Linked DNA regions of Homo sapiens. The protein of the gene in region 2 purifies or fractionates together with the protein of the main gene of each other region. This does not show direct contact. Each region holds a gene or a part of one and is shown on either strand. Other genes may lie near its edges.

What was found.
Region 1: the proteins of VIPAS39 (region 2) and VPS39 fractionate together in Homo sapiens (co-fractionation; one large-scale study listed by BioGRID). This does not show direct contact.

The regions. Positions count from the first base shown.
Region 1 is NC_000015.10:42,163,305-42,166,804, forward strand, and holds part of VPS39 (vam6/Vps39-like protein), read right to left. Parts: coding exon 3,468-3,500; intron 3,346-3,467; coding exon 3,259-3,345; intron 2,929-3,258; coding exon 2,855-2,928; intron 2,513-2,854; coding exon 2,414-2,512; intron 1,810-2,413; coding exon 1,692-1,809; intron 1,586-1,691; coding exon of another isoform or gene 1,569-1,585; exon of another isoform or gene 1,415-1,568; intron 1,183-1,414; coding exon 1,054-1,182; intron 425-1,053; coding exon 322-424; intron 92-321; coding exon 46-91; intron 1-45. UniProt on the Homo sapiens protein: Regulator of TGF-beta/activin signaling, inhibiting SMAD3- and activating SMAD2-dependent transcription.
Region 2 is NC_000014.9:77,450,210-77,455,573, reverse strand, and holds part of VIPAS39 (spermatogenesis-defective protein 39 homolog), read left to right. Parts: intron 1-1,471; coding exon 1,472-1,564; intron 1,565-2,172; coding exon 2,173-2,275; intron 2,276-4,240; coding exon 4,241-4,387; intron 4,388-5,364.

The DNA.
Region 1 (3,500 bases), on a different chromosome or scaffold from region 2:
GGAGAGGTATGCACACGTGCTCCCTGGGTCAGGGTCACTACTCACATCTTTGTTGCCATCTTTGTTTCGGTCATAGTGTTTGTGGCAGTACCTGCAAGGGAGAGAGTGGTGAGAGCAGGTGGTGTGAGGGGGGCACATCTAAATGAGAGGCTGTGCGTGCAGCCTGCTCGAGCAGCCTAACCACAGCCAAAACTGCGGGCCAGGACGGAGGCGATTCTTGCTCCCGCAGTGGAGTATGGGGAGATGGCCTTCTTAACTCTCATCTCTCTGCAGGGCCTGCTTTTAGACTGCTTAGGAGGTGGGATGTTGGGGCAAACTTACTCCTCAGCCATCCTTGTATCCTTCAAGATGTGGACATAAATGAAAAGAGCTTGTTCATGTTTCCCCATGCGCCCCAACAGGAGAGCTCGTTCTTCTAAGAGGCCTAGGAGGAAAAGGAATATGAGGAACCACTGCCGCCATCACGCAAGCACAAGGTGGGGGCTATGCTGTCAGAGGAGTGGACACGAGGCAATATAAAGGGAAGACAATAGGATTCTTATTGCTTGGGTTTTTCTTCAAGGAGAAAATAACTGAAGTTTAAAAAAGGGGGAGGGAGCTATTTTAGGAAGTACTTTATCCCATCTTTTTTGAGGTCACATATAAACTGGGTAAGAATATTCATTCAGCAGCCAAGTACTTAACAACCACCTACAACATGCTAGGTGGTTCAGGTAAGATGAGCAAATGCTTGCTCTCAGCTCTCATAAAGACAAATTATGCCAGATTACAAAAACTGCTGAACAATGAACTTGGCCAAGAACATGTTCTGAAGCAAAAAACAGGTTGCAACCTGGCTATCAATTAGCATGTGGTTCATACCCAGGAAGGAGACTTTTCTCAGTCACGGTACAAAAGTGAGTCTTCAGAGAGGACAAAACAGGAGCACTGGCCTGAAATGCCTGGTTTTTCCAGGCCCAACTTTTGTGGAGAGTTGGGGAACAATTAAAGGGGTGGATTAGTCTTTGCATGACCTTCGCTGAAGTGGCTTCTGGCCCTAAGCCAGACACTCACCATCAAAGGGAAAATCACAGATGAGCCGGCCTGGATCATAGTAGCTGGAAATCTCCAAGAACATGAGGAGCTTTTGCCGGTATTCTCCCAGCTCACCCTCTTCCTCTCCAGCTGGGACTGGGGTTTTGCCTTTAAGGGAAACCAAGCTCAAAATGAAAGGACACTGCCAGGTGGCAATGTAGGGTCATCAAGAAAAATGAAGGGAATGGGGTTCAAGGATGTCACCACATGACCAGAAAGGGCCTCCAGGGTGGCTTCCATGCTAACTTCTTTTAGTTCATAGTCTCCATGTGGCCCCAAAACATCAGCTTACGGTTAAAAAAATAAGCTGAATAGAGAAATACTCTGTGGGCAAACCTGTTTCTTATCAGTATAGCTGTCATCTTGCAGACAGGTCTGTTCCTTCCACCCTCCCCGAGGGATGACTCTGAGACACTCAGAGATGCCAGGACCTAGACAAGAGCTCCTGAGTCTCATGTGCCAGGCTTGTGTCACTTAGCTCCCCTGGCTCCTCTTCAGAACTTCTGCGCACCTGGGCAGAGAATAGGGTGGCCTGCTTACCCCCACCACACGTGGCACCTGGGTCTGTGCTCTCCTCTAAGGCCTGGGGCCAACCGGCTTCCTAAAAGAACTGGTACCTGCAGGGAAGGACAGGAGATACTCCTTCATCAGACCTTGCACCTTCTCACAGTATAGCTGGATCAGGCAGTTGTGGAACCGAGAGCCTGTCTCCTCCCAAACATGGATGATGTGTTCCTGAGGCAAGATGTAGGTCTTTGTCACTGGTATTCTCCAGGCTGTGACCTGGTCTCCCAGCCTCCCTCACATTTTTAAGGCCCAACAGGTCCCATCCAGATTATCCCCTAATCGGGCTGCAAAGATGACTAAGAGACAGCTCGTCTAAAGCCACCAGGAAGTTTCACAATGCGACCCAGTAACGTGAGGAGCCATCTTCTCAATTACTAAACTCCATTTTACTAATTTTGTCCCATAATCCTCCAAACTCTCATAGCGACTCATGTAATTGTGGTTAAATATCTGCATCCTGGTACTTAAGCCTATTTGATTGTCCTGTGGTCACTTTTGAGTTTCGCTTTGGAATTTTTTTTCCAAATGTGGCTTTGGAATTTTTTTTTCTAAAACATTATTCTTTTATCCCTCTGTAGTTTACCTAGATTTGGTAGGTAGCATTTCCAGCTTGGTCTACTGGGATCTTTTTCTTCAGAGGAAGCTGAAATAACCCTCATCCTTCCAATCCCCAAGTGACATAAATCCCAAATCTGAACAGCCCGATAACAGAACCACGCAGTCCTGGATCCTGGGTTTAAAGCTTTTTAGTGCAGACCAAAAAATACCTTACCAGATAAGGAATAGCCAGACCCTTAAAATTCTCTATTAAGAAGCCGAGGACTCGATCACGTGGCAGAGACTCCACTTCCGGGAGATCTTCAGTAAATATCTGTTAGAATGAACCCGAGTTCCAGCAGCAGAACCATCTGACTGCAGTTCCAGCAAACACACACGCATGTGAGCGCAGGGATCAAACAGACTTTAGGAGGGCAAGGGTACGAGAAGGCATCTGTAGGCAGTCAGCATGTCAGACGAGGCACAGGCCTCCTCATGCCTGTGTAAGGCTCTCTCTACCAACTACAGTGCTGGCTCGCGCTTCCCAGTCCACCCTTTCTTCATGCACCAATGAAGACAGATGCATGAATCCACCCTCCTCTCCATCCACTGCTGTCTCAAGTGCAATCAGAACCAAGTGTTTACCAGATAAATCCAAGGGACTCCTGTGGCTCACCTTCAGGCCATCTTCTGGGAAGTCTCTCAGCACCCACACTGAGTAGGAGAAAATCAAATGCAGGTTTTCTGTGCCTAGAAGGAAAAGCAGGACTTGTCAGCAGTTGAGGCCCATCTTGCCTGTGGCACTGGGAAGGCAGGTGGGCAGGTTGCCCCAGAATTCATTTTCCTGAAAAGACAGCTCAAGCATGAGCCACTTGGGGTTGTTAGCCCTACTGGGCTGGCTCCATACCAGGGGGCTGTCACAGGCCAACCACCGAGGGACTTTTATGCCATTTGGAGGAATGAAATTGAGTGAACACGAGCACGGGAGGGAGGGGAGCAACCAACCAGAAACAGAAACAGAGGGAGACCAGGTCATTTGAACAGGAGCGCTTTCCCACCCCTTTCAAAAGGCGGACTTACCCAGATGCTGCAGATACTGCACTGTCCTCTCGTGGCCTTTCAGAGGGGAGTTGGCTTTCTTGGACTGGTCCACGAGCACCTGCAGAGCTGGCCACCAAGCCCAAGAACAAGGTCATGAGCCTTTTCCCCACGGGAGATTTCCATATCTCAGTGGGTTTCCCCTGCCATGTACAAGAGCCCCTCCCAGATCCAAGGAACCACTCCCACACCTTTCTCGTGGAGCCCCTTCTTCTCATACAGGA
Region 2 (5,364 bases):
TACCCAGTCCTTGGCTTAAATCATAGTTTTCATTCTAATCCTGTTGGCATTGATAGTTTACTTTGTAATTCTGTTTCCTTATTTGGAGATAGGGAGGGTCTCACTGTGTCACCCAGGCTGGAGTGCAGTGGTGTAATCTCAGCTCATAGCAGCCTCGACGTCCCAAGCTCAGGTGATCCTCCCACCTTAGCCTCCCAAGCAGCTGGGACTACGTCACCATGTCCAGCTAGTTTTTTGTTTTGTTTTTTAAATTTTTTTGTAGAGACAGTTTTACAATGTTGCCCAGGCTAGTCTTGAACTTGGGCTCAGGTGATCCTCCCACCTCAGTCTCCCAAAGTGCTGAGATTACAGATATGAGCCACTGTGCCCTGCCTAGTTTGTAATTCTAGGGCAAAACTTGTTTTTGCAGGGCAAAATTGAATTTTATAGTAGTTATAACAGGGACTTGTGGTCTTTTGACTACTTCTTTATATACTTGCTTTTCTTGGCCATCCCCTCATTTCTCAAATTTTGGCCAACAGTTGTTAATAAAATAGTCATAATTTGAAGATTTAGGTGAGATAATTCTGCTTCTTTTAATTGCTTTGCTTTCCGTTCTTTCAGGCATTTAAAAAGCATACATGAGGGTGGAATATTTGTTCATTCACTGTAGTATTCCCAGAGCCTAGAACAGTGCCTCAGAGATGGTGCTCAATAAGTATTTGTTGAAAATGTGAATGCAATTTTTGTCTGTTTTGTGCATGTTCTGATTGCTCTTCCTTGTGTATTCAGCAAAGTTTTTTGATAGATTCTTATAACATTTGCCTGCCTTGCACTGTTGCTTTTAATACATACCTATGCTGAATGCCCTAGCTCTGTTGTAGGGTCCCCACGTCTGACACTTTTTTTTTTTTTTTTTGGAGACGGAGTTTCGCTCTTGTTGCCCAGGCTGGAGTGCAATGGTGCGATCTCTGCTCACCGCAACCTCTGCCTCCTGGGTTCAAGCGATTCTCCTGCCTCAGCCTCCTGAGTAGCTGGGATTACAGGCATGCGCCACCATGCCCGGCTAATTTTGTATTTTTAGTAGAGACGGGGTTTCTCCATGTTGGTCAGGCTGGTCTCGAACTCCTGACCTCAGGTGTTCTGCCTGCCTCGGCCTCCCAAAGTGCTGGGATTAAAGGCCTGAGCCACTGCACCCAGCCTCTGGCACTTTTTTATATACCTTACAACACCTGAGAGAGTGCCCTGGACAAAGTGGATGCTCTTAAGAATGGATGACTACTTATGGGTAATTAGAAGATTAGAAGTATGATTTGATCAGTTGGAGACCCAAGAATCTGGTTTTATATGGCAGGTTCAATATTTGTTTTACCAGATTCTTTTCTGCATCCTTGATTTTTGGGATCAGTTAGTGGTGCAGGAAACTAAAGCTTTTGGAACTCTTTAGGGAGAGACCCAGAAAGGGGCAATGTATGTTTTCCTGTCACTGTAGATGAATCGGACAAAGGGTGATGAGGAGGAGTATTGGAACAGCTCCAAGTTCAAGGCTTTTACCTTTGACGATGAAGACGATGAGCTTTCACAGGTAGGTCAACTGCTGAAGTTTGTACTCTTCTCCACAGTGCCACTATAAAATTCCTTCCTCTTGCATTCTGGGTAACTAGGCTTTTGACCATGTATGTCTTCATTAGGCTCAGAAAAGAGCCAGAAGGATTGTAAAATCCAGCTCACTGCCTTTCTTACTTTACCTTTTTAAGATGATTTATTCCTACAGGTTTTTTTTTCTTTTGAAGAACCCCAAGTCTTTTATTTATGTGATATATATTTTTTTATTTTTGAAAGATGAACTGGATTGGAAGATTTATCTTTGTTGTGTCTATTTTGCAATTGAGGAATCATTTATTTTTAGAGAGGTGAATAAATTCACTCAGGTTTACATAGCAAGTCACTGCCAGGAATATGATGAGAATTCAAAAGTGACTTTGATTCCTCCTAACTCTTTTATCACTGGACTGTAGTGTTGGCTAAAAATCAGTTTGTTTTCTTGGCAAATATGTAGTATGCTAGGCTTTCGATTGCACAGGGCGAGTGTTGGCCACCTTCAGGCCCCAATTCCTCAGCCTTCTTGATTGTCAGAAGAGAGGTGGGAAATGATGATTTGCCTGAGCACCCTAGCCTTGTGTCCCTCTGCAGTTAAAGGAGTCCAAGCGGGCGGTGAACAGCCTCCGAGACTTCGTGGATGATGATGACGATGATGACCTGGAGCGAGTCAGCTGGAGTGGGGAACCTGTGGGAAGTAAGTAGAAGAGTCCCTAGGCAGGGATAGATGTTGAGGATTCTTATCACTGATAAAGGCTCTACTTGTTTGTTTCTTCAATGCTAGTTAGGAGAGGGACTAGGATAAGACTATTTTCAGATAAGCATACATCTGGAAACTTAACTCCAGGAGAAGATACTTGGGAAATCCAGCAGGAGTTCCCACATGGCTATATAGGTCTGCTCTTCAGGGGTTGACTCTTAGCTGGCTATTTCATTCTCATTTGGGGTGCTTGTTAAAATGACATACTCCTAGGCTTTATCCCAGAGATTCTGTTCATTAGGTCTTCTGCGGAGTAGAGGGGGTCTCAAATTTTAATAAACACTGCAGGTGATTCTGATATATAGCCATATTTGGGAACTACTGACTTGACTCAGTATACTAATAACTGATTGACAGAACGGACTTCCTTACCCACCAAGTCTCACTGCTTAGCTGTATATGATACCACTTAATACTTTTTCAGAGTCCATTTGATTTTTTTTTTTTTTTTTTTTTGAGATGGAGTCTTACTCTGTTGCCTAGTCTGGAGTGCAATGGCGCGATCCTGACTCACTGCAACCTCCGCCTCCCAGGTTCAAGCGATTCTCATGCTTCAGCCTCCCTAGTAGCTGGGATTAAAGGTGCCAACCACCATGCCTGGCTAATTTTTGTATTTTTAGTAGAGATGGAGTTTTACCATGTTGGCCAGGCTGGTCTTGAACTGCTGACCTCAAGTGATCCGCCTGCCTTGGCCTCCCAAATGCTGGGATTATAGGTATGAGCCACCATCCCTGGTCCCCATCTGATTTTTAAGAAATATTTTTAATTGAAAGTTTTTAAAAAATAGGCCATACTATAATGTGACTAAAGATTAAAAAAAAAAAATTAAAGGTCTACAGTGAAAAGTTTCCGTTCCATATTGTTATGTATCTTCTCAGTTTTCAGTTCATGTCCTCCCAAAAAACAATCGTTGCTTGGTTCCTGTGTATTCATCTAAAGACTCTTTTTGCATCTGGAAAAGTATATAGAAACATGTATTCTTATCCCATTTTTACACAAGCAGTAGCATGCTTCATACCTTGCTCTTTTTATGTGTTAATATAGCTTGGAGATCTTTCCATGTCAGTATATAAAGAGTGTTCTCATTTTCTCTTTCTTTTTTTTAAATAGCAGCATAGTATTAAATTGTATGGGTTTACCATCATTTTTTAGCCAGCCCACTGTTGAATTTTAGATTTTTCAATCTTTTGCTCTTTATATTTCTATCATTGACTTTATATTCTGACCATAGATGCATAAATGAAAGAGCAATTCTTAGAGTGGAATTACTCACATAGGATGTTTGCATCTGTATTGGGTAGATATTGCCAAATTGACCTCCACAGGGGTTGTACCAATTCATACTACCACCAGCAATGGAGGAGGGTTCCAGTTTCCCTATAGCCTGGCTAACACGGTATTATCAAGCTTTTGGATCTTTCCCCATCTTATAGGGGACTAATGGTTTCTCATTATATTTTTAATTTGTAGTACTCTTAGCAAAGCTGGGGGCAGGTGGTGTGTGCCTCTGGAGGGTAGTGGCGATGGATGGCTTGAGGCCAGGAGTTGAGGCTGACGTGAGACATGACTGTTAGATATGATTGTGAATAGCCACTGTACTCCAGAGCTCCGGCAATGTAGTGAGACCCTGTCTCTAAAAAAAAAGAAAAAAAGAGAAAAAAGAGTAAGGTTGAGCATCTTTTCATATGTTGAAGAGCCATTTGAATTTTCTGTGATCCACCTATTCATGTCCTTGGTCCATTTTTCTGCTGATTAGTCTATTTGATTCTATCTTTTCTCCCTGCCCCAAGTTGGCCAAGGGACCAGGGCTTCTGGTGAAAAGCTTTTAGAGTTTATTGAATGTTGGATGTCAAGGCTTTATTGTGGATGAGAATTGCTGATGTAGTTCTTACTATCTCACAGGTATCTCATGGTCCATCAGAGAGACTGCTGGTAATAGCGGCTCAACCCACGAGGGGCGTGAACAGCTAAAGAGCCGAAACAGCTTCTCCTCCTATGCACAACTACCCAAGCCTACTTCTACCTACTCCCTGAGCAGCTTTTTTAGAGGTAAAGAGAGATGCTTAAATGGATAGGGAAGTCCTTCTCTTTTTCCAGAAAAATCTTAGGCCATAATTTTCATTTACTTTGTAAGAAAAAGATTATTGAAGGGTAAAGCATTCTCATTGGAGGTGGCAGCTGGGTGTTAGGAGCGAGATAAATGAGAGAAATTCAGAGGAGTTGGACTGGTTTTCTATAGCATGATGAATGAAATTGACATTAACCCTGTGACTGGTACTGAAAAAATTTGCCTAGATCAAAATTCCTCCCTACTCCTTGTGCATTGCTGTTGGAAAACCTTGTTGGTGGGAATGCCAAATGGTGCAGCCACCGTGGAAGACAGTATGGTGGTTTTTTAAAAAAAATTAAACAGTAAACATATAACTGGCTAGGCGTGGTGGCTCACGCCTGTAATCCCAGCACTTTTGGGAGGCTGAGGCAGGTGGATCACCTGAGGTCAAGAGTTCTAGACCAGCCTACCAATATGGTGAAACCCCGTCTCTACTAAAAATACAAAAATTAGCCGGGCATGGTGGGGGCTTCTGTAATCCCAGCTGCTCAGGAGGCTGAGGGAGGCAGATTGCTAGAACCTGGGAGGCAAAGGTTGTAGTGAACCGAGATTGCACTACTGCAGTCTAGCCTGGGTGACAGAGCAAAACTCCATCTCAATAAATAAATAAATAACATATGATCTAGCAATTTTACTTCTGGGTATATCTCAAAAAGAATGGAAAGCAGGTACTTGAACATATATTTGTACCTCCATGTTGATAGTAGCATTATTCACAATAGCCAAAAGATGGAAACAACCCAAATGTCCATTGATGGATGAATGGATAAACAAAATGTGCCATATACATGCAGCGGAATGTTACTCAGCATTAAAGAAGAACGACATTCCCATACATGCTGCCATATGGATGATCCTTGAGGATGTGATACTAAATAAAATGAGGCACAAAGGGACAAATATTGTATGACTCCAT